Homo sapiens: one gene and its partners. The protein of the gene in region 6 purifies or fractionates together with the protein of the main gene of each other region. This does not show direct contact. Each region holds a gene or a part of one and is shown on either strand. Other genes may lie near its edges.

What was found.
Region 1: the proteins of PLRG1 (region 6) and LINS1 purify together in Homo sapiens (affinity purification with mass spectrometry; 2 studies listed by BioGRID and IntAct, with this or other methods). This does not show direct contact.
Region 2: the proteins of PLRG1 (region 6) and XAB2 purify together in Homo sapiens (affinity purification with mass spectrometry; 4 studies listed by BioGRID and IntAct, with this or other methods). This does not show direct contact.
Region 3: the proteins of PLRG1 (region 6) and SF3B1 purify together in Homo sapiens (co-immunoprecipitation; 3 studies listed by BioGRID and IntAct, with this or other methods). This does not show direct contact.
Region 4: the proteins of PLRG1 (region 6) and ISY1 purify together in Homo sapiens (affinity purification with mass spectrometry; 4 studies listed by BioGRID, with this or other methods). This does not show direct contact.
Region 5: the proteins of PLRG1 (region 6) and DHX35 purify together in Homo sapiens (affinity purification with mass spectrometry; 2 studies listed by BioGRID and IntAct, with this or other methods). This does not show direct contact.
Region 7: the proteins of PLRG1 (region 6) and SF3A1 fractionate together in Homo sapiens (co-fractionation; 3 studies listed by BioGRID and IntAct, with this or other methods). This does not show direct contact.

Annotation. Positions count from the first base shown.
Region 1 is NC_000015.10:100,595,685-100,599,184, forward strand, and holds part of LINS1 (protein Lines homolog 1), read right to left. Parts: intron 1-3,500.
Region 2 is NC_000019.10:7,619,546-7,623,045, reverse strand, and holds part of XAB2 (pre-mRNA-splicing factor SYF1), read left to right. Parts: intron 1-152; coding exon 153-284; intron 285-384; coding exon 385-516; intron 517-601; coding exon 602-715; intron 716-1,748; coding exon 1,749-1,911; intron 1,912-2,009; coding exon 2,010-2,200; intron 2,201-2,376; coding exon 2,377-2,499; intron 2,500-2,599; coding exon 2,600-2,771; intron 2,772-2,970; coding exon 2,971-3,100; intron 3,101-3,189; coding exon 3,190-3,299; intron 3,300-3,398; coding exon 3,399-3,460; 3' UTR 3,461-3,500. UniProt on the Homo sapiens protein: Involved in pre-mRNA splicing as component of the spliceosome. Involved in transcription-coupled repair (TCR), transcription and pre-mRNA splicing.
Region 3 is NC_000002.12:197,425,029-197,428,528, forward strand, and holds part of SF3B1 (splicing factor 3B subunit 1), read right to left. Parts: intron 1-3,500. UniProt on the Homo sapiens protein: Component of the 17S U2 SnRNP complex of the spliceosome, a large ribonucleoprotein complex that removes introns from transcribed pre-mRNAs.
Region 4 is NC_000003.12:129,126,915-129,130,063, forward strand, and holds the end of ISY1 (pre-mRNA-splicing factor ISY1 homolog), read right to left. Parts: 3' UTR 501-3,149; downstream 1-500. UniProt on the Homo sapiens protein: Component of the spliceosome C complex required for the selective processing of microRNAs during embryonic stem cell differentiation. Required for the biogenesis of all miRNAs from the pri-miR-17-92 primary transcript except miR-92a.
Region 5 is NC_000020.11:38,968,844-38,972,343, forward strand, and holds part of DHX35 (probable ATP-dependent RNA helicase DHX35), read left to right. Parts: intron 1-237; coding exon 238-371; intron 372-3,500. UniProt on the Homo sapiens protein: May be involved in pre-mRNA splicing.
Region 6 is NC_000004.12:154,540,401-154,543,900, forward strand, and holds part of PLRG1 (pleiotropic regulator 1), read right to left. Parts: intron 1,880-3,500; coding exon 1,787-1,879; intron 535-1,786; coding exon 385-534; intron 296-384; coding exon 194-295; intron 1-193. UniProt on the Homo sapiens protein: Involved in pre-mRNA splicing as component of the spliceosome. Component of the PRP19-CDC5L complex that forms an integral part of the spliceosome and is required for activating pre-mRNA splicing.
Region 7 is NC_000022.11:30,343,395-30,346,894, reverse strand, and holds part of SF3A1 (splicing factor 3A subunit 1), read left to right. Parts: intron 1-375; coding exon 376-583; intron 584-1,704; coding exon 1,705-1,962; intron 1,963-3,500. UniProt on the Homo sapiens protein: Component of the 17S U2 SnRNP complex of the spliceosome, a large ribonucleoprotein complex that removes introns from transcribed pre-mRNAs.

The DNA of each region.
Region 1 (3,500 bases), on a different chromosome or scaffold from region 6:
AAATTACTAGTTTCTTTATATGATGTGGCTACTACATAGACTAATAGACTGGGAAAGTCAATAGTAGGCCTTCCCCTAATTCAACAACAGTTGGTTCAAATCTGACCACAGCCCAAGAGGCTACTTAATCTATTTTGCTCCATTAATGAAGATGCAGTGACAACTGTCGCGGAAGTTGAGGCCTCCAAACCCAGGCTGTCTTCCAGGATTCTGGTTCCCTCCACCAATCGAAACTGCACTTTTCACAGAAAAAATAAAATGGGTCTGGTTAGACAAGAGCACCTCCCTCCCCTATTAAAAGAAGTGGGGCAGATATCTTCCGACAGCATGCCATGTGCCAGTATCTTCCCTTTAGTTCCATTCTTCACTCTCCTCTGTGCCCCAACAGACTCCAGGAGATTTGGAGTGGGAGGGGCGGAAGGCAGGCTGGACTTTCAAGCTCCAGGAACTGCCAGCTCTCTTTACCTTCAGGGCTAAAGGGGGTGCTGGCGGTTACTGGCCTTGGAGTGCTACACCATCCTTCCTTTTCCTCAAAACAATAGTACTCAAACTGTGTCATGCACTAGACAGGTTTATGAAAGCAGACTGCAGGGCCCTATCCTAGGAGCTTCCCATAAGATAGTTCTGGGGTGGGGCCCAGTAATTTGTATTTCTAACAAGTTTCCAGGTTACTTCTGAGATAGTGAGAATACAAACTCTGTCACGTGTTTGTAAATTGTCTTCCTATTAAACTCTTGTCTTAGGACTCTGAAACAGGCCAGATTTTTTTGGCATGAAGGAAAAGCCTGGCAATCAAGTTATAGATAAAAGACTTAATGCTTAAATGCATTTTTCTGTCAAAGTGATATACTGGTAACAGCCTGATGATACAGGAGCTAGAAATTATTTAGACAGATAGTGAGGGTAAGAGAGTCCTCGGCAAGGTTTCCCTTTTAATAAAAAGCAGCCCCCAAATCATTTCTTTTCTAACAAAAAGCGGCCTGAAAAATCAAGCTGCAAGCATAGATACACAAGTAAAAGCTTGCATAGGTGAATGCCGGCAGCTGTGCCAATGGGAAAGGGCTACCTGGGGACCAGGCACAGATAAGAATGTAACAGAGGAAGCCTGCTGCAATTGGTTAAATCCAAGATGGCCAAAAACTTGACTGAATGCATACTCTTGGCTGCATTATGCCCCATTACCATAAAACTTCCCTGGGGAAACCGCCCACTCCCTGCCACGTACCTGAAGCTATGGCAGTTCCAGATTAACCACATTTAGTCAAGAAAAGGGTGGCGCCCTGATTCTGGGAACTGCCCACCCATTTCCTGGAAACCCTCTCCTTTCATCATAGAATATTTGTGCCTTCATCATGCCTGTCTGCGTAGCGAGCCCTGACCACATTACACGCCTCTTTTGAGCACATCCAGGCTCCTCTTTTGAGTGTGCACTTGCTTTCACTCTGCAACAAACCTTCTACATTTTCACTGTGGTCTCCCTTTCAAATTCTTTTGTGCAGAGAAGCGAAGAACCTGACCTGGCCTACTGGCAACAGTATCTTTCTCAAGTAGCTCTATTATGTGACCACTCCAAAGGCAAATCTTTTTTTTTTTTTTTAAACATAGCACAAATTAATGCTGGACATTAGAATCATAACGTGTTCATACTAGAAAAAATCTCAAGAGATAATTTAGAGATAATTCTCAAACCGTAGCATCAGAATTACCTGGAAGGCTTATTAGAACACAAATGGCTGGGCCCACTTTGGAGATTCTGATTTAGTGGGTCTGGGAGGGCCCAAGAATTGAACCAGGGACTACATTTTGAGAACCACTGCACAATCTACTTGATTTATTGATGAGGAATCTCAGCTCCTTAGGTTTTTATATGCTAATGCTAAGCATTTTTAAAATAAATGGAAATTATCCAGTGTATCAATATGAATACTTTTCTATACTTAGTTGCTAAATTATAACTGTATGTTTTAAGTGGTACTTCAGAATGAAATATTTCACTGAAAGGTTTTCCTTAGTCTTCCCCTTTTCCAGTCTATGCCTTGTCCCTTTTCCATCTGCCCCCACAAACCCGCCACCAGTGGCAGGGTAGCGTTGAGGAACTGTCTATAGATGTGATACTGTCTAGATTTTACTGAACTCCTAAATTCTGTACACAGACAAGATCTGATTTTTCAATTGATAAAACGAGATTATCTACCTACCTCAGCCAAGTAGCATACTCAAAGATTTGCAAAAATTAAATGGCTTATATGTGAAAACACCTGTATAACTCAAGTAGGAAGATGTCAATATGTCTTTATTTATTAACCTTGAAAGGTTCCTTCCAGCCTCTGGGCCTTGATACAATGCTTCTCCTTCCACCCACTTTCCCTTTTGTTTTAGGCTTAAATATGACTTTCTTTGGCAGGGGTAGGTCCTCCGGTGATACTGTCTTCCAGCTCTGGTGCCCTGTCTTACAGAATGTGTCACAATTATACTTTAACGATTTGTGCAATGATTTTTATGATTTAGAGTTGTCTGCTTGGTTCTTCCCTAGCTCCTAGCACAGCATTTGATACACAGTAGGTACTTATATTTGTGGAATACATTCCTGGCTGAAGATTAATTTAGTAGTGTATATGTAACAATCCTAAAATCAGTCCCAAAGTATATTTTAGTACCGTTTTGATCTCAAAAAACTTTAAAAACACCATGTAATATTTTAAGTTGTGAATTTTAAATTATAATAAAAATGTAGTATCAAAGAATTATAAACAGTAGTATCCATAGCAGGGATTAAGTTCTGAGCTCATTCAGTCTTTACCGTATGACACATCTGACAACGTACTTGACAGAAGCAACACACACTGAAGCACCATCTTAAAATGGCTGTGGTAGAATACCATAGAAGACCAAAATCCCTTAAATTACCAGGGCAAGAACTATAAGGAACTCAAAAGCCTCCAGTTAGCTTCCTTTCTTTCGGCGTTCTTTTTGCTGTGATGACCAAGGTCTGAAATACAATTTCTCTACCCAGCCCCATCGCCTTTTCTGCCAGGTACAGCTGAACTAAGTTGGGCTAACAAGGCAAATGATGGGCTCCAAACTGTGCTGCATCTGTCTTTATGGTGGCCCTCTTTATTACACCAAGATCCCCAGACACAACCTGCTGGCCCAGAACACTGCCTGCTGCCAACTAGAGCATAACCTGCTCATTCTCTCCACCACCAAGTGCTTTATGGGCCAGGACACAGCCTCCTGGGCAGTGGTCCTTGACCTTGGAATCTGACCTTGACACTGACATCACTGGAACATTAGGAAAAACCCATGAGCCTTGGACTCCCTAGAGACCAGCTAAATCAGAATTGCTGCAGTGGTGCTGGGGCATTTTTCCAATGACAAAGTCTCTTTCTACTCAAGAAATAAACTCAATTCTGATTGAGTCAGGGTTTCATGAATCAAGCTTCATGAATACTTATCCCAAATTATTTCACTTATATGTTGTAAGATGTTCCCATTTTTGT
Region 2 (3,500 bases), on a different chromosome or scaffold from region 6:
GTGCATGCATATGTGCACGCATGTGTGTGCCTGTGTGTGTGCCTGTGTGTTTGTGCCTGTATGTTTGTGAGCATGGTCACCTTTCTGACCCTTGATGGTGGGAGCTGTCCAGGTGGGCAGGGTCTCAGCCTCGCCTCTGCCCGCCCCGGCAGGCCCGTGTCATCCTGGAGAAGGCCACCAAGGTGAACTTCAAGCAGGTGGATGACCTGGCAAGCGTGTGGTGTCAGTGCGGAGAGCTGGAGCTCCGACACGAGAACTACGATGAGGCCTTGCGGCTGCTGCGAGTGAGAACAGGCCCAGGCTGTGGGGTGGGGGCTGCAGGTTGTAGGGCAAGGGCCAGGGACAGCCCCTGAGCGCCTCCCCGGCCACTGTCTGCCCCTGCAGAAGGCCACGGCGCTGCCTGCCCGCCGGGCCGAGTACTTTGATGGTTCAGAGCCCGTGCAGAACCGCGTGTACAAGTCACTGAAGGTCTGGTCCATGCTCGCCGACCTGGAGGAGAGCCTCGGCACCTTCCAGGTGAGCTGCCTGTGGCTGGGGAGGGACGGGGCCCCGGACTCAGCTCCAGAACCAGCTCCAACCTTTCCCATCCCCACCCCTGCAGTCCACCAAGGCCGTGTACGACCGCATCCTGGACCTGCGTATCGCAACACCCCAGATCGTCATCAACTATGCCATGTTCCTGGAGGAGCACAAGTACTTCGAGGAGAGCTTCAAGGTGAGGGGCTAGGGTGGACCCAGAGGCCCCTGATGGCAGTGTCCCCTCCCCAGGGGTCCTCAGCAACTTACGAATCTGCTGGGGCTTGTGTGACACAGTATACAGACTGGGTGACTTAAACAACAAAGATTTAGCTTCTCCCCGTCCTGGAGGCTGGAAGTCCAGGATCGAGGCATGGGCAGGGCTGGTTCCTCCTGAGGCCTCTCTCCTTAGCTTACAGACAGCCGCCTTCTCCCTATGTCTTTGTGTGGCCTTCTCTTTGTGTGTGTCACTTTTGAAATTTCCTCTTCTTATAAAGGACATCAGTCATAATGGATTAGGTGGCCCCTAACGACCTCAGTTTAACTTAGTGATCTCATCTTCAAACGAATCTACTTTCTGAGGTACTGGGGGTTAAGATTTGAGCATATGAATGTTTTGAGGGGGGCACAGTTCATTCCATAGCAGGCACAGAATCCTACTTCCACGTGCACCCATGACTCATGGGGAGGGTGTTGGTGCCAGTGTGTGCGGGCTCTCCCTGCCCCGCTGCTCAGGAGACGGGTTGTGGGGTCCAGGGGGTGGGTTGCGTGTCCGTGGGAAGGCCATGTCCCGCGGCCGGAGCAGTCATGTTTGAGTGTGTGTTTCTATGGATCGTGTGGGCATTATACAGATACACAAATGGGGAGGTCGTACATGCATACGCGTGCTACTGCCTGCCCCTCTGTCAGGGGGTGCGGCCTTCTCCCTGGGGACAGGCAGCCAGCGTCAGCGGAGCTGGGGAGCCACCCACCTTCACCCATCATGTCACCTCCTATGGGGCCAGACTGTGCTTAGCAGGTCCCATTGCACCCCTGTTCTTGGGGTTCTCACAGAGGGAGACAGTGCAGAGGACAGACCCCCACAACTGCCATTAGGGACAGGGAGGCGTGGACAGGGAAGGGCCCCAAGGGAGTTCCTGGCAGGCTCCCTACAGACGCCACCCAAGGACATCCCGGGTGCCTGGTGGTCTCTATCTGCAGACTCTCACATGTGACTCTCCCTCTGGTAACAGGCGTACGAGCGCGGCATCTCGCTGTTCAAGTGGCCCAACGTGTCCGACATCTGGAGCACCTACCTGACCAAATTCATTGCCCGCTATGGGGGCCGCAAGCTGGAGCGGGCACGGGACCTGTTTGAACAGGCTCTGGACGGCTGCCCCCCAAAATATGCCAAGAGTGAGGCGGGCAGAGGGCATGGGGGGGGTGGCGGGCGGGCTGGGTTTCTGACTGGCCCCGGCTGACCGTGCTCCCCTCTCCCCGCCTACCCCGCCCAGCCTTGTACCTGCTGTACGCACAGCTGGAGGAGGAGTGGGGCCTGGCCCGGCATGCCATGGCCGTGTACGAGCGTGCCACCAGGGCCGTGGAGCCCGCCCAGCAGTATGACATGTTCAACATCTACATCAAGCGGGCGGCCGAGATCTATGGGGTCACCCACACCCGCGGCATCTACCAGAAGGCCATTGAGGTACCCACCGTGGGGGGCTGGGCCGGGGCCAGAGGTCCCTGAGCAGACGGAAGGGGTCCAGGCAGGTGGGAGGGGCTGAGGAGGAGCCTTCTGGAAGCACAGGGATGGCCATGGTGTGTTGGGAGCCCCCGAGCTACCCCGGCCTCACTCCCGGCCTCCCCAACCCCGGTGTCCAGGTGCTGTCGGACGAGCACGCGCGTGAGATGTGCCTGCGGTTTGCAGACATGGAGTGCAAGCTCGGGGAGATTGACCGCGCCCGGGCCATCTACAGCTTCTGCTCCCAGATCTGTGACCCCCGGGTAGGGCTGTGGGGAGGGACGGGTATCAGGGTTGGGGGCTGCGGCGGAGTCAGCCAGCTCACGGGCACACACACCCACCCCTGCCCTGCCCCCCACGCAGACGACCGGCGCGTTCTGGCAGACGTGGAAGGACTTTGAGGTCCGGCATGGCAATGAGGACACCATCAAGGAAATGCTGCGTATCCGGCGCAGCGTGCAGGCCACGTACAACACGCAGGTCAACTTCATGGCCTCGCAGATGCTCAAGGTCTCGGGCAGTGCCACGGGCACCGGTGAGCCGTCCCAGCTGGCTGAGTTCCTGATCCAGGGCATCTCAGCCCGGCCTGACCTGGGCTTTCCGGGTCTGGGAGCCTCGGATCCTGATGGCAATCTCCTTGAGGGCTGGGCCATCACCTGGGGGACTGGGATAGTGCAACGTCCGATGTGTGGGAGGGGCCCCCGTGGCGCTGACCCCCTGCTCCCACCCCCTAGTGTCTGACCTGGCCCCTGGGCAGAGTGGCATGGACGACATGAAGCTGCTGGAACAGCGGGCAGAGCAGCTGGCGGCTGAGGCGGAGCGTGACCAGCCCTTGCGCGCCCAGAGCAAGATCCTGTTCGTGAGGTGAGGGCGGATCCTTGGACGGGACAGGACTGGGACAGGTCCCAAGGGGGCCCGGGGTGGGGAACTGAGGCAGCATGGCCCGTCCCTAGGAGTGACGCCTCCCGGGAGGAGCTGGCAGAGCTGGCACAGCAGGTCAACCCCGAGGAGATCCAGCTGGGCGAGGACGAGGACGAGGACGAGATGGACCTGGAGCCCAACGGTGAGGGCCCGGCTGGGGCGGGGACGGTGGCATTACCAGGGTGGGCCTCGGGGGACAGGCCAACGCCAGGAGGGTGACTGGCTCCCGCCTTCCCCACAGAGGTTCGGCTGGAGCAGCAGAGCGTGCCAGCCGCAGTGTTTGGGAGCCTGAAGGAAGACTGACCCGTCCCTCCCCCATCCCCCCTCCCCACCCCCTCCCCAA
Region 3 (3,500 bases), on a different chromosome or scaffold from region 6:
CACGCCTCTAGTCCCAGCTACTCAGGAGGCTGAGGCAGAACTGCTTGAACCCGGGAGGCCAAGGCTGCAGTGAGCCGAGATCACGTGCCACTGCACTTTAGCCTGGGCAAAGAGCAAAACTCATCTCAAATAAATAAATAAATGAATAAAAATTAGGCCGGGCGCAGTGGCTCACACCTGCAATCCCAGCACTTCGGGAGGCCGAGGTGGGCAGATCACCTGAGGTCAGGAGTTCAAGACCAGCCTGGCCAATGTGCTAAAACCCCGTCTCTACTAAAAATACAAAAATTAGCCGGGCATGGTGGCAGGCGCCTGTAATCCCAGCTACTCGGGAGGCTGAGGCAGGAGAATCACATGAACCCGGAAGGTGGAGGTTGCAGTAAGTCGAGATCACGCCATTGCACTCCAGCCTGGGCGACAAGAGCGAAACTCCGTCTCAAAAAATAAATAGATAAATAAATCAAATAAAAAATAAAAAAGCTCAATTGCTAGCTGCATGAATCAAAAGATAAAGATTCAAATAGCATCCTGTATTTGCAAAACCTCCCACCCCCCCAGCTAAGGGAGAAAGCCCTCTATAGTTCCTCAAGATAGATGTGCAGGATAACAAAATGTCCTTATCTAGTCTAAGGCACGGCTGGGTCACATTTCCACATAAGAAAGGAACAGGAGCACGTCTCACAAACTGGAGGCAGACGCGGTAGCTCACGCATGTCATCCAAACACTTTGGAAGGCTGAGGTGGGCGGATCACTTGAGCCCAGGAGTTCAAAACCAGCCTGGGCGACATGGCAAAACCCTATCTCTACAAAAAATACTAAAATTAGCCAGGTATGGTGGCAAACCTATAGTCCCCTGCCACTTAGGGGGCTCAGGTGGGAGGACTGTTTGAGCCCAGGAGGTCAAGGCTGCAGTAAGCCACGATTGCTGCCACTGCACTCCAGCCTGGATGAGAGAGAGACTGTCTCAGAAACAAACAGAAAGAAAGAAACTCAAAATGATAGAATAGTTTTAATGCTGAGTTTAGCAGCCCCAGTTGTGATCGGATCTCAAAATTATTATAGTGTGTTGTGTTACACAGCACCACTACATGCACAGATGTTACTTTGTCCCCAAACCATTATAGCAGCCCAGGCAGCCAGAAATATCCTCACATGAGCAGGGTGGTTCTTTTTACTATGATCTCTACTTTTGTTTCTGTTTGTAGTTTCATATTTTGAAAAATTTAATCTACATTTGCCCCACTCCCACCCCCTTCGGGCATCTTCTTTTCTTTTCTTTTTTTGAGGCGGAGTTTTGCTCTTGTTGCCCAGGCTGGAGTGCAGTGGCTGGATCTCGGCTCACTGCAACCTCCGCCTCCCAGGTTCAAGCCATTCTCCTGCCTCAGCCTCCCAAATAGTTGGGATTATAGATGCCCACCACCACGCCCAGCTTCAGGCTTTTTTTTTAAACCACAGGTGCATTTATCACTTTTACCTAAATAGGTTTTTGTAAAAGGACCACAAATGCTACTTCCATGAGGATTTAGGTAAGAAACAAATGGATGAATCAGGAGAAATAGTCTGCAATCTCCTCTACAGCATTAGTCTAGTATAAGGACCACCTACAAAGAAATGACCTGGTGCACCTGTTACAAAGGTAGAACCTTAGGTCTTGGATACACTAACTCTGAAACTCCAACTCAGGCTGTGAAGCCCAGGATTCTGCATCATTAACAAACACCCTAGGAAACTATTTTACCTGGCCCTTCACCCCTCCCATTTCCAACCCCAGCCCACCCCTACCAAATTTTCCAATTTAGAGCATCATTTTATACTTTTCTCTACCTCATACACAACTAAAAAACAGGAAAGGGGTGCTGTTTTATAAAAACTGCACACTACACATATTGTGCAACTTGCTTTTTCCCCCTTATCAGGCATCTCTCTTATTTTCCATCTAAACAACTTTTCCATCCTGAAGTTTCAGCAACTAGTTTCTCATTTGGATAACACTTATTCTGGAACTAATTTCAGCTACTGAATTTTAACTATTGATTTTATGTACCTGCTGATTAGCATCAGAGTTTTCCAATTACAAAGGTTCATAAAGTACTGAAATAGTGTTGGTATGAAATCTATGTAAATCATGACTAGGTTCTTATTAAAATTTAGTAACAAAATTACCCAGCCCAAAATCTCCTGGGGCTAGGCAGCTGTTTGTAGTTAATTAATCCTAAGGTGAGTATATTACTGAACTTCTTATAGGCAGTACAATTAAATGTTTATATGCAAATCAGGCATTGTTTTCTGTCTGCTGGAAACTATAGATATAAAGTCCAAACAGCTTAATGGGCTTTGTTAACACACTGCAAACTGCAGCACATTTACACATACACCATGTGATCCATAAAATTAAGCCGTCAGATTCCATAAAACTCAGCAGCTTATTATGCAATTCAGAGAACTAAAAACTCAGAAATTTCTTAATAAACTATGTGCTAAAATACCAAATATAACATACCCAAATATTTATGAGCAAACAAATTATTACCATGACATTCATAAATAAGGTAACTTTGTGTCTGAGGTTTCGTTTTCAAAATAAATAAAAAGGTGGGAAAAAATACGGCAGAAAATGAAGAACTGATAAAGCTGAGCAGTGGGTTAGTGTTCATTATATTTTGTCCTATTCTCTTCTGCATGTTAAAATATTTCATAAAAGGTAATCTGGGCCGGGCATGGTGGCTCACGCCTGTAATCCCAGCACTTTGGGAGGCCGAGGCGGGTGGATCACGAGGTCAGGAGTTCAGGATCAGCCTGGCCAAGATGGTGAAACCCCATCTCTACTAAAAATATAAAAATTAGCCAGGTGTGGTGGTGGGTGCCTGGAATCCCAGCTACTCAGGAGGCTGAGTCAGAGAATTGCTTGAACCCAAGAGGCAGAGGATGCAGTGAGCCGAGATCGCACCACTGCACTCCAACCTAGGCGACAGAGCAAGACTCCGTCTCAAATTAATTAATTAATTAATTAATTAATTAAAAGGTAATGAGGCTGGGCACTTTGGGATGCCCAGGCAGGCAGATCACTTGAGTTCACAAGTTCAAGGCCAGCCTAAGCAACATGATGAAACCCTGTCTCTACAAAAATTAGACAAAAATACAAAAATTAGTCACTACAGGTGCACACCTGTAGTCCCAGATACTCAGGAGGCTGAGGTCAGAGGATGGCTTGAGCCCAGGAGGCGGAGGTTGCAGTGAGCTGAGATCACACCACTGCACTCTAGCCTGGGTGTTAGAGCCAGGCCTTGCCTCTAAATAAGTAAGTAAATAAATAAATAGGTAATCTGTAGAAGTAATTAAAAGTAATTTTCCAAATTTTTCTCTCCCCTATCCATGCCAGCCAAGGTTTGTAAAATTCCACTTCAAATTTTTTATCTCTGGGAATAACAATGTTGTCTCTAACTCCGTATTTTCAAAACCAACACTAAGTTACAGCCTGGTGTGTAAGTATTCCTATAAT
Region 4 (3,149 bases), on a different chromosome or scaffold from region 6:
TTCTGGTGGAGCAGGTGGGCAGCAAGTGAGATGCCAGAAGGAGCTGGGTGCCGCTGCCCGTCCCCCTGGATCCCTCTGCTTGCTAGTCAGCTGGGTGCTGGGCCAGGCCTGATGTCCATCCAGGCGGGTTCCTGCTTTCAGTGCTGCACAGTGAGCAGGGTGAGGAGCCCCAGCTAGGGTCCAGATCCTGCCAGTGTTTCAGGGAATGGGGTGTGCATGCGCAGCACTGCAGAGCAAGTGCAGGGCAAGAGGAGAAAGGTTTTCATTTCTTCCTTGTTTATAAACTGCCCAAGGGCAGATGGGGTCAGCCAGTTGGGGATGCAGCGGGAGGAGGTCCAGGAGGCCTGGGTGGGGATGCTGTGACCAGTCTTAAAGCAAAACAGGAGGGAGGTGGTGTGTTTTAGACGCTGGAGGACAGGCAGTGTGAGGGAAGAAGGAAGTTGATGGAAACATGACTATGAAAAAGTAGCTTTTCGGGAAACCACAGGCAGAGCCAAAGCTAAAATAAACCATTCAGTAGATTTTATTAACCAAACAAAGCCTCCTGAGATTGGTTCTGTCACCTCGGAGCCACAAGCTGGGAAAAGATAACCACACCCACCCAGCCAGCTTCCCCCACCCCCAGCTGTTTCCAGGCCTGGGACTGGAGCCCTGCTGAGACCTTGTCCCACATCTAGGACCCTCTAGGGCCTTTGGGCACAGACAAGTAGCAAGGGCCTCTGCCAGGAACACCTAGAGGATGTCCAGCTGGGTGCTTCTCCACTCTCAGTCTGTTTGCTCAAATGTGGAATTCTAATCCCTGGCCAGTTTGCATCCCGGGGATCCCTGAAGAGATCCCAGGAGGGGAGTGCTTTGTGCACTGAAGGCGTGGAACAGGGCACTGGAGGAGGAAGACCCAGAGCCCTGGCTCTCAAGACAGGCCTGGCTCCAAGCACCTGCCATCCTTCCCAGGGAGAAGGAAGGCCTGATGTCTGGATTCCCCATTCTCTTCTGAATGCCAGGAAGCACCAGAGTGCGCGTGTGCCCCTTGGAAGACAAACCCACAACCAGGCCTGTCTGAGGCCGGCCATCCGCACGCTCCCAAGAGGCTCAGACCTGGGTCAGTCTGTCCCTAGGGCCCTCTGAGGCCTCTGCCCAAACCACAGGACTGCCCAGACCCCAGAGCAAACTGAGACAGCACAGGTCCACTCCTTGACTTCAAAGTATGGAAGGTGAGGCTGGGCCCAGAGGGTCTTGCTCAAAGCCCCCACGATATTCACTCCTGAGTCCCCACCTGCAGGCCCAAGCTGGGTGCTGGGTCCCAGAGGCGAGTCTGCCTTGCTGCCTCCAAGGGCTCCCAAAGCTTCAACCTGGACACCTCTCCTCCCTGCACACATTTGCCTCCGGGCTTGACTGAGGGCTGGGATTGGCCAGCCCAGCCCTCAGGGAAGCCAGGAGGCAGGGGGGCCCCTTCCCCATCCTCACCTACACCCTGGCTACTCCCATCCCCACCAAGCCCACCCACCTCCTGCCAGGGCCTCTGCCCCAGCCTCCTCCTGACCTGGTCCTGCCTGGGCCTCTCCTTGTGGCCGCACGGAGCGTCCTCAAGCAAGTCCCTTAGCCACTAGCTCCCGACTCCCTCACTCAGACCTTTTCCACAGTCCTTGTGGCCCTCGGGCTCCTTAGAGAGGGCCCAGCACTGGCCACTCTCCCGACTTGGCCACACACAGCCACACACGGCTCTGCCACCCCCAGTCTGAGCTGCTCCCCGCAGACCAACCATCCCAGGCCTCCCGCTGTGTGATGGGCTTCTCCAAGCCAAGAGTTCCTCCTATTCCCAAACAGCCTGAGCTGGAGCCCCAGGCCCCAGGAACAGCCATCTGGCCCTGACCCTGAGTTCCCAGACACTCCCATGACCCTGCAGAGGGCAGGAAGCCAGGCACCATCTTGCCCAGGGGCTACAGCCGCTGACCATGGTTCCCCACTGGAGAGCTAAGCCCCAGTTCAGAGGAAGCTCTGGACTCAGCTCGTGTCCACTGTGTGCTTTCAGCAGGCCACGGTGCAGCCCACTGCAAGGAGCCCTGTCTACAGCTGTGGCCACGGACGCCATGGTGGGTCGGCTCACTCCCACCTAGACTCCTGGGATCTGGTCCTGTCTTTGCCACACTTGGGGCTGGGGCTTCAGGGACTCCCCTGCAGGAAGGCAGTGCCCCTTAGTGACTGGTCACATCCTAATGCCACTGTCACCTCAGAGCCGTTGGCCCAGGGAACAAGCTGAAGACATGGAGGTTTCCCTTTCTTATAAAAATCTTTAATAAAAATAGGTTTCTGCAGAACAGGTTATAAAACAGGAATAGCAAACTCAAATTCCTGCCACCCAGGCAGGAGCGAGTGGAGCAGGTGGAGGGGGGCTAACGGAGAGCCCAGAGCAGCAACCAACACAGAGGGACCTGGTCATTGACTTGTGGGTTGCGTGCATCTTTTTTTTTTTTTTTTTTTGGGACAGAGTCTCACTCTGTCGCCAGGCTGGAGTGCAATGGCACGATCTTGGCTCACTTCAACCTCCACCTCTCGGGTTCAAGTGATTCTCCTGCCTCAGCCTCCCAAGCAGCTGGGACTACAGGTGCATGCCAGTACGCCCAGCTAATTTTTTTGTATTTTTAGTAGACATGGGGTTTCACCATGTTGGCCAGGATGGTCTCCATCTCTTGACCTCGTGACCCGCCCGCCTCGGCCTCCCAAAGTGCTGGGGTTACAGGCGTGAGCCACTGCGCCTGGCCACATCATCTCATTTTTCAAGAGATGTGTCTTTTAGAAAATTTGCATTTTTTAAAATTATACTTTGGTCTGCAAAAAATTGCATTTTTAAATGTTTGCCACTAATTGATTCTTCTCCCCTCAAAATGGCAGTGCAAGTCAAAATAAGACACAGGCAGCCAGTTCGCAACCTGTTGTATACACTCCACAATAAAAATAAATGGATCCACACAGTAGCAAAATATGTGTACAAAACCTACCAGGAAGACCAGGGACAGACCCCTACCCTCCGGTCAACATGAGACAAGGAGAGGGAAGGAAGGCTGAGAATGGGGCAGGAGCCCTTGCAGCACCAGCCTGTGTCTGCAGCCCTGGGTCCTGAGGTACCACTGGGGGATGGAAGAACTCCAAGG
Region 5 (3,500 bases), on a different chromosome or scaffold from region 6:
ACCTAACCCTGTCTTGTTTGTTTTTGACACTGCAGTGAAGCTTTTAGGGAAGATTTTTAGTTCCTCGTAGGCACTTTTCTGGATTCTTTCCTAAAGTTAAGGTTGAATACCTTTGAGTAGTTTGAGATAAAAAGTATTGCTTCTTCTGTATATCTTCATCTTTGAAAGTTTATAAACTTAACACCTTTTTCTGTTCATTGTATCAGAGAATCTGAAAAAAAAACATTTCTGCTGCAGGTACAGAGGGGCCAGGTGTAAGCATCTCTGAAGAGAGACAAAGTCTGGCTGAAAACTCTGGGACAACGGTTGTTTACAACCCTTATGCTGCCCTTTCCATAGAGCAGCAGAGGCAGAAGCTGCCGGTATTCAAGGTACGTCAAATAATCATGTTCAACCTGTGGGCTTGAATCGTGTGTCTGCATTAGCTTTATGCTCAGCACTGAAGGGAATGATGGCCTCTTTCTAGAACACAGTGAGCTCAGAGAAACCCTTACTGTAAGGGATGACTTTTCATACTGTGTATTTTTTAGTTAACCTTATAAATCTTGAAAGTCCTTAAGATTTTTTCAGTTGCATCGTACATACTGGAAAACTGGAGGAATTAGAATGACTTTTGTTTTCCCCTTTATTCCTTTCAGCTGTGGACAATTTCAGATATACAGAAAAGTAGAGAAAATAGCAGTTAATTTCTATATAACAGATTACCAACATATGGCCAATTTTTGCTTTATTTTTAAAGTCACTCCTTTAAACAAGTTTAATTGGGAATATGAGGTTGTTTCTGCTGAAGACATCAGTTAATACTCTGACTTCCTCTGAGACAGTGACAGGATTTTGGTATGGTTACTACTTACCAAGTGCACATCCAGACACTCAGTTTTATTAGCGCTCACGAAACAGATGTGTGCTCAGCTACAAGAGACCAAAGTGCAAACTAGAATTCATTCAGAACTGTTCATTTATGGCTAGCAATAATTCTCCAGTACAGATGGACACAGTTGACATATACACTTTGTCCCTGTTGGCACATCCACATGGGAAGCCAAATTGTAATCAGGAAGTACAGAGCCAAGACAGGTTACAGAAATGTCATACAGCCCCTGATGAGGGGTGAATTCTCCCTGCTCCACAGGATGCCCTTGGAATGACCCGAGTAGGTGTGGCCACCAGCATCTGTGTCTCTTTCTTTCTCCTGGACGGTGCTGGGTGAAAGTTGCTGTGTTCTATCTATCTGTCTGTCTGTCTGTCTGTCTGTCTATCTATCAGACAGGGTCTTCCTATATTGTTCAGGCTGGTCACGAACCCCTGAGCTCAAGCAGTTCTCCTGCCTCGGCCTCCCAAAGTGCTGGGATTACAGGTGTGAGCAGCCAAAAGGTGCCAAGTTCTTATACTCATGGAGTTCTTTTGACTAGACTGTGCTGATAATTCCTCTTCTATTAATGTGTTCTTTCTCCAAACAGATAGGCAACAGCAGCCTTCTTAATTTAGCCAGATTGCCTTACTTGGAGTTTTATGTGGCTCCCAATATTTTAGTCACAAGTGAACTGACTGTCTCTGGGTTTCTTCCTCAAGTGACTAACACATTCACTATGTATGAATGTTAGCAAGTTTGACTTTCAGGAGATGAAATGATAGGTTTACTATTGCTTTCTCACCACTGAGGGACAGTTTGAGCTGTGATGAAGTGTCCGGACTCTGGAGCTAGACTTCAGGGTTCAAACCCAAGCTTCACCATTTGTGTGCTGTGTGACCTCACTTCTCCATTCTGAGCTTCTTTTCTTTATCTGTGATGTAGGACTACAGGAGCACCTACCTCATAGGACTGTTATGAGGACCAGATGAGATCATCCATGCAGAGCATTTAGCAAGATACCTGACATGTAGTAAATGCTCAAGTACAAGGGAAATTACTGTTTACTCAAGTATTTAAATTTTGGCCTTTTCTTGACTATTCTTTGTCTCCCAACTGTACTTACAAGATAACATAAATGAAACAGCAAATGAAAAAAAAAAAAGCAACAAGAAGTTAAGAAATGTTTATGAAATTAAAATGGTAAGAAGAAGGGTGTAAGTTACTGATATAAAGCAAAGCAGAGTTTAAGTACAGTTGAGATCTTATAAGATGTTGAAGATGAATCGAGACAAAAAGGAAAACAAGTTACCTCTACGCCATCCTTTTTCCCTTTCAAACAAAAAGTAAAAGTAGCTTTAAAAACAGAAATTGGAGGCTCGGTGTGGTGGCTTACGGCTGTAATCCTATAGGCTTTGGGAGGCTGAGGCGGGTGGATCACTTGAGACAAGGAGTTCGAGACCAACCTGGCAAACATGGTGAAACCCCATCTCTACTAAAAATATAAAAAATTAGCCGGGCGTGGTGGCACATGTTTGTAATCCCAGCTACTTGGGAGGCTGAGGCAGGAGAACTCTTGAACCCGGGAGGTGGGGGTTGCAGTGAGCCAAGATTGCACCACTGCACTCCTGCCTGGGCAACAGAGCGAGACTCCATCTCAAAAAACAAAACAAAACAAAACAATGTTGGAACTAAAGCATCAAGAGATTGTTAAAGATCACTGCCTCTTCCCCAGCACCATTATGAGGCCACCTGTTCCCTTGTCTGCCTTCTTTAGGCTGCTGTATAGACAATAGTGACTCTATCTTGGATGCAAGTCTGCCATGTTCACTTCTGTTTAGACCCAGTCTTATAAATGCCTCCTGATTTCTGCTTTGTATATTGTCCTTAGTGTAAGAACATGTCAACCTCTCTGGGGGCAGCACTATTGACAGCTTCTTGTTTTGTTTTGTTTTTCCCCAAAAACAGTCTACGCATAAACAAGTAGATACGTGTTTGCCCTAAGAAGAATGCAGTTACTAGGGTATTATTCACACTGTTCTACATCTCACTTCCTTTTCTTAACATATCTTATAGTTCATTCCATATCAGTACAAGTAGATATTTCCTCTTCTTAATAACTACAAATTATTCCATTATTGGAATATTTTATGACTGATTTAACCAAACTTTTGTTGATCAACATTTAGGCTGTTTGAATTTTTGGCTATTATAAACAACTCTGCAATGAGTATGCTTGTATTTATGTCTTTGTACACATATAGTATGTAGCAGTATGTCTATAATTTCTTGTTTTTTTTGTTTTGTTTTGTTTTTTTTTTTTTTTTTTTTTTGAGACAGAGTCTCACCCTGTTGCTCAGGCTGAAGTGCAGTGGCATGGTCTCGCCTCACTGCAGCCTCCCCCCGCCTGGGTTCAAGCAATTCTGCTGCCTTAGCGTCCTGAGTAGCTAGTATTACAGGCACTTTCCACTGCGCCCAGCTAATTTTTGTATTTTTAGTAGAGACAGGGTTTCACCATGTTGGCCAGGCTGGTCTTGAACTCCTGACCTCATGATCCACCCCCGGCCCTGGCCTCCCAAAGTGCTGGGATTGCAGGCGTGAGCCACCTCACCCGGCCTATAATTTCTTATAAGTGAAAATGTAAAGGGCG
Region 6 (3,500 bases):
ACATGGTGAGGCCATACAACTGAAGACTAAGGTGGAAAAAAATGCAAGTTAAGAAACTTAGGGACTAGGATATTGATGACTCAAGACAGCTATCTTTAATTCTCTATCAATCAATTGAAGACACTGAAACCGAAAGTGCACCCTACAAGATGCAATATATTTACAGATAAATACACAACTCTATCCCATTTACCCGTGCAGTTGAATCTCGACTACAGGTTACCAACACATCGATTGTCGGGTGCAAATCCAAACCATACACTGCACTTAAATGTCCATGATAATGCCGTATAACCTAAAGACAAAGCAGGAAAGTTAAAACTTCTAGAATTAGAAAGATAAATAGTAGTTCACAATGTTTTAAATCCTTAACTCCAAACTTACCTTATTGTATTCGAGATCCCAGCATTTCACTTGTTTGTCTTCTCCACAAGAGAACAGATATGGGCTCCTTGTGCTTACTATCACGCCCCGCACAGTACTAATATGCCCAGTCAATGACAGTTTTAATTTGCCACTAGCCAAGTCCCAGATCTGCAATCAAAGAATATTTATTTTTTTCTTTCACTGGTTACTGCAAAACAAAATTTTAGAAACCTGATTATTAAAACTGAGCTTTCAAAGACAAAAGGAAAAAGATAACAAATACGTAAAAATAAAAAATTTTGCAAAATGACTCCCCTCCAAATAAAAGCAAGAAAAAAACTGGCATGCTCAAACTGGAAAAATATTTGCAATTAGATGACAAAAGGTTAACCTTCTTGTTATATAAATGATATCTTTGATAATAACAGTAAGAAAAGTATGGTATTAAATTAACTGAGGCTGGCAACAACTTAAAGAAATCCTAAAAGCAGCAAATACAGATATGAAAAAGTTCACACTCATTAGAAATTTCATACAAAGTTTTTTAAAAAGATTAAGTATCCATTTTTGCTTACCATATTAGATATTTGTAAAGGAATGTACAACCAATGTGCTGAAAAGGATCCTCTCATACACTGCAAGTATCGATTCACCCATTTGGAAAGTAATTTGTACTTTGGGTATCAGCTTCAAAAATATTTGACCCATTTATTCCATTTATGGAACTCTACCATAACAAAATAATTTAAAATACAGAAAAAGTCTTATATACAAAACTTAACAGCATTACTTGTAATGGTGAAAATCAGACTAAAAACTCTACTGTCCAGTAATAGGAAAACAGATTACAGACTATCTAAATGATATAATATTATGCAACCACTTTAAAAGATGGTAAATTTTTCACAGGAATATGCCTTTGATACAACGTTAAGTGAAAAAAGCAAGATACAAAATTACATACTAAGAATGATTTTTTAAAAGATACACACACAGGAAAAGAGCTTAGAAGTGAAGGTATTGATACTTACAGAAATAAATACTAAAACGAAACTTATCCAAATATCTAACAATGGTAGGATTATATACAGGTCTATGTACTTTCCTAATTCTCTATATTTTCCACATTTTCTATGAATGAGCATGCTCTTAATTTTGTAACCAGTTGGAGAGAACAATGTAAGTATAAAGGAATTAGTGGTAGGTATTCAGTAGGTAAAGAAAAAGTGGTTTAAATAGCACTTTTCAAACAGATATTTATTTAGAACACTTATTAGTATAAATGATAAATTTTACTCCTTATTCAGGTCTAAAATAACAGAGGAACTGCAATAGCAATTCCTGCCACAGGAAATAATAACTGATTAAACTTACATGACAAACACAAAGTCATGTTTATTTTTTCTTCCTTCATTATTACCTTTATAGTTCTGTCAGCAGATCCAGTAACAAACCACTGATTTCCAGGTTCCACAGCAATACATCGAACCCAGCCAAGATGCCCACTGATAACCTGTATAAAACAAAGTAGAATGGGCAGGCCAACGTAGAAGTTAAAATGTATTTAAGTTTAACTGCAGCCCGAGTTTGAATTGCCCTCCCATCTTCAAATCATAAAAGATAATGACTATTACATTTTACAATAATATGAAATTATCTTCAGTGAGTTAATAGTTAACACAAATTGTGGCTCATCTATATAATGTAAACTACTCAGTAATAAAAAGGAATACATTATTAATACTTGCAACAACTTCAATGACTCACAAAGTATTAAGCTGTGTGAAGGAAGCCAGTCTCAAAAAGTACATATTGTATGATTCCATTTATATGACATAGTCAAAAAGACACAGCTAAACCAACCTAAGTGTCCATCATGAGGTGAATGGATAAATAAAATGTGGTACATACACACAATGGAATACTATTCAGCCATAAAAAAGAATGAAATTCTGTTATTTGCAACAACATGGATGGAACTGGAAGATACTATGTTAAGTGAAATAAGCCAGGCACAGAAAAACAAATATTGCGTGCTCTCTCTCATATACGGGAGCTAAAAAATAAATGATCTTCAGAGTTGAATGATGGCTACCAGAGGTTGGGAAGAATAGTGGGGAGGCAGAAGATAAAGAAGAGGTGGATCACGGGTACAAAAATAGATAAAGGGAGTAAGATTTAGTGTTTGGTAGCACTAGTTTGGTTAGCTAGTTTGGTAGCACTAGTTTGGCTAGTTAGCTTGGTAGCACAATAGAGTGACTACAGTTAAGAGTAATTTATTGTATATTTCAAAATAACTAGAAGAGTAAAATTGGAATGTTCCTAATACAAAGAAATAATATCCCAATTACCGTGATTTGATCATTACACACTGTATGTTTTTCTTTGTTTTTTGTTTTGAGATAGGGTGTCACTCTGTCGCCCAGGCTGGAGTGCAGTGGCGTGATCTTGGCTCACTGCAACCTCCGCCTCCTGAGCCCAAGTGATCCTCCCACTTCAGCCTCTGGAGTAGCTGGGACTACAGGTGTGCTCCACTACACATAGCCAATTTTTGTATTTTTTTGTAGAGGCGGGGTTTTGTTGTGTTGCCCAGGCTGGTACTGAACTCCTAGGCTCAAGAGATGCGCTTGCCTAGGCCTCCCAAAGCACTGGGATTATAGGCATGAGCCACCATGCCTGGCCTACACACTGTATGCTTGTATCAAATTTGATATGTAGCCCATAAATATGCACATCTATTATGTTAGCCATAAAAATTAAAAATAAATTAGAACTGAAATTATTGAAAAAAAATAAGACAACTATAGTGATAGAAAACAGATCAGTGATTGTCAGAGGTGAAGGAAAGTGTAACTACAAACGAATAGCACAAGGGTGTTTTTTGAGGTGGTGTAACATCTATATCCTAATTGTGGTAGTGGTTACCCAAATCAATACATCTATTACAATTCATTAGAGCTGTATGTCAAACAAAAAGGCTCTTACTGTACAATCATTTGAAAAATGAAATTTTTAAGATACATATTAAATTATGTGTAGCTGTACATTTCCTACTATGTACATTTTCTTTTTTAAAATTTTCTGTTTTTAATTTTTGTGGGTACACAGTAGAAATGTATTTATGGAGTACATGA
Region 7 (3,500 bases), on a different chromosome or scaffold from region 6:
GGTAAAGGCATACTGATTTTTTTTTATTTGAAGTAGTAATATGTATTCTCCATCTTAAATAGATTTTTTTTAAAGTAAATTTTATTAAAAGAAATGAGCGATAGCCTAGATGGTTTTGGAAATGGCAGAACTGGAAAAGGAGCTAAGGAATGACTGGGTTCAGGGAAACCCTGTGGCAGAGGTGGCCTGGTTCAAGCTGAATGAGGCAGATGGCACTGATCGCCAATGCCAGGAAGCTAGAGGAGGACGTCTGCTGAGGGATGGGCTGGTTTGAGCAGTGGGTGGTGGCAAGAAGGACGTTCCAATGGGCAGTGTTCTAGATCACAGCAGGCACAAGGGAGTGGTGTTTATTCTTGTTGTTTTTTCTTCCTCCAGAAACGGGCCTGAATTTGAAGCTAGGATCCGACAGAACGAGATCAACAACCCCAAGTTCAACTTTCTGAACCCCAATGACCCTTACCATGCCTACTACCGCCACAAGGTCAGCGAGTTCAAGGAAGGGAAGGCTCAGGAGCCGTCCGCCGCCATCCCCAAGGTCATGCAGCAGCAGCAGCAGACCACCCAGCAGCAGCTGCCCCAGAAGGTTTGGAGCCCAGTGCCCCCTTCACTTACGCAGGGCTTGAGAGGGAAACAGGGATAGGGAGGGAGTACACAATTAACTCCAAATCTCACAACCACCCAGGGAGAGAAGTGAGGTCGTTATCCCCATCTCTCAGAGGCAGACCGAGGCCCAGACAGCAAAGTACTGATGTTAGTTGGCATTTCCCGAGCACTGCTTGTCAAGCTCTGTGCTTGGTACTTCAGGAGTCTTGTCTCATTGACTCCTCACAGAGGCTGTATGAGGAACCTGAGAGTTGGGGGACGTGTGATTTATTCAAGGCCTTGCTCAGGGTGTGAGGGCAGTGCCGTGATGTGAGGGCAGCACTTCCTACTTGGCTGTGCTGAAGGATGCAGTGTGGCCTGTGGGCTCCTCCTTGTGCCATCCCTTCCCTTCTATCTCTTCTTCCCAGGACCCCTCCATCCTGGCCTCCCCTGATACCACCTTCCCTGTGCTGAGGCCCAGCACTAGGGACTATTAGGATTATGAATGAAGAGAGAGGCTGACATGTTTTTCCTCCTGTCCAGACCTGCCTTCTGCACTCCTGAACCATGGTGGAAAAGGCAGTCCCTCCTTTTGCAGTGGGCTATAAAGGTTGAAGTCAGGTTCTAAGACCTTGCGTTGCAATGAGGCCTAGGACCTCAGGCTACCTCAGTTTCTTCATCTGTAAAGAGGATTCACAGTACCTGTGCTACCTCATCGTTCATGCGGAGGTCATGGAAACACTTTGTACAGTGGGGTTTTCTGCACACATGTAGGCCTTCTGCACATCCATCCCTCTTGGATGGGATTTAATAAGTCCTATTCTTGTTGGATCTTCTGTCACCCAGTTTTGGCCCTCAATTTCAAGGCAGGAGCAGAGATACAGAGGGGAATGGTTCTCACTCAGCCATTCAGGAAGTTGAGGCCATAGTTGGCTGGGAAGTCAATGCTCTTGTGATTTAGAATTCTCTCACACCAAGTGCTAGTGGTGTGTGCATAATTAACAGAAGTCTAGAGGTTCACAGCATCCTGCTGAGGGGTGCATGCCCATGTCCCCTCCCCTCCCCTCCCCTGGAGCCTGTTCACCCCTGTGCCTCTCGCCTCATACTCCCTTTGCATCTTAGGTCCAAGCCCAAGTAATCCAAGAGACCATCGTGCCCAAAGAGCCTCCTCCTGAGTTTGAGTTCATTGCTGATCCTCCCTCTATCTCAGCCTTCGACTTGGATGTGGTGAAGCTGACGGCTCAGTTTGTGGCCAGGAATGGGCGCCAGTTTCTGACCCAGCTGATGCAGAAAGAGCAGCGCAACTACCAGTTTGACTTTCTCCGCCCACAGCACAGCCTCTTCAACTACTTCACGAAGCTAGTGGAACAGTACACCAAGGTGCCTGGGCAGGATGGGGCTGGGGTCCTGGGCCCAGGAAAGGAAAACATCTTATGCTTGGAAGCACTGTGTCCACTCACTGTCTACAAGGACATCGCTTCTCCATGGGGCCTCTGAGCAAATGTTTTGAATCCCAGTTTAATGTAAAACCTTGATTTCTATTCAGTTATTTCTTTAAGTGCAACACAGACTGCCGGTTTCTAAAGAGAAGGGAAATACATGCTTGCTAACTACCATTAGGCGATTGCCTGCTATGTGACAAGGCCACGTGGTGCTTGCTGCTTTTAAGTGCATTTCCGTTTTCAGTTGCCTAGTAAGGCCCTGAGAAGAAGCCAACCTTTAAGAGTTGCCTCCTTTTACCTAACTTAGTCCTCACAAGAAGCCATGAGGTGTTTTCCCCCCATGTTTGAGAAGCAGAAACAGGCTCAGAAAGGTGAAGTCACGTACTCAAGGTCTGTCAGCTAGTAAGTACTATGCTGAGATTTAAACCACATTTGACCCTAAAACTTTGGTTCTTCAGCTTATAAAGTGCCTTAAATTGGAAACAGCATTTAAATAGGTGTTGAGAGACACTTTGATGTCATGTAAGTCAGTATAACTAACATCACTAAGAAATTATGTATGCAGCATCTTCTCATTTAATCTCCGGTAGCCTATAAGGTAGCCACTATTGCTATGTTCACTTTACAGAAGAGAAAATTGAGGTGCAGTGAAGTTAGCATGGCCAGGGTCACATAGCTAGGAGGTGGCAGGGCTGGGGCTTGAGCTCTGGCATTTTTACTCCAGACCCTAAGAACTCAATTATCATTTGACAGAGCTGCAATCAAGAATCAGGACAAGTCAGTTCTGGCATTTAAAATAATCAGATTATTAATTTATTGCAAAGTGCACTGACAGCTTTGCCTGTGGCACATTTTTCTTGCTACACATGTCATGGAGGTTGTTTTCCTTCCCTTTACAGTGGGATGGTCTGTACATCTCTTCTTCATATCCAGAAACAACACCTCAAAGATCTGACTTGAAAGGACTTGAGAATTTCCTAACTCTACTCACTTTTAAGTACATAATTAGAATTTTAACAATGTGTGTGTTTAGAAAATGACCAAATCCAGAAGCTAGTATGGTAGCTAAAATAACAGTCATTCAAGGCCCAAGGCCCAAGGGTTTCTATAAATATGCAATATCAATTTTAAATGAACCCTGGATTAATTTCTCCCAGTGGACTGCTTCCAGGGTTAAAGGTCCCAGATCACTTTTTATTCTGTTACTTTCCTGTTTTTTCTTCAGAACTTGGGTATTGGCATTTACCACTGTAACTTGAGGTTCCTGCTGTCTGTTCTAGCCATGGAAGACTGAGCAGATAGATTCTTGGGGTAGAGGTGGAAGGAGGATTGGGATAGGGCCGAGCCACTTTGCCAGTGGCAGTAGAAGCTGTTGGGGCTGTTTAGAACAAAGGCAGCATTTGTTCTCTCAGTAAGTATACATTGTCAGACATTATTCAGGGGGCTGGAGATGTAATCGTGAACAAAAGAGAAATC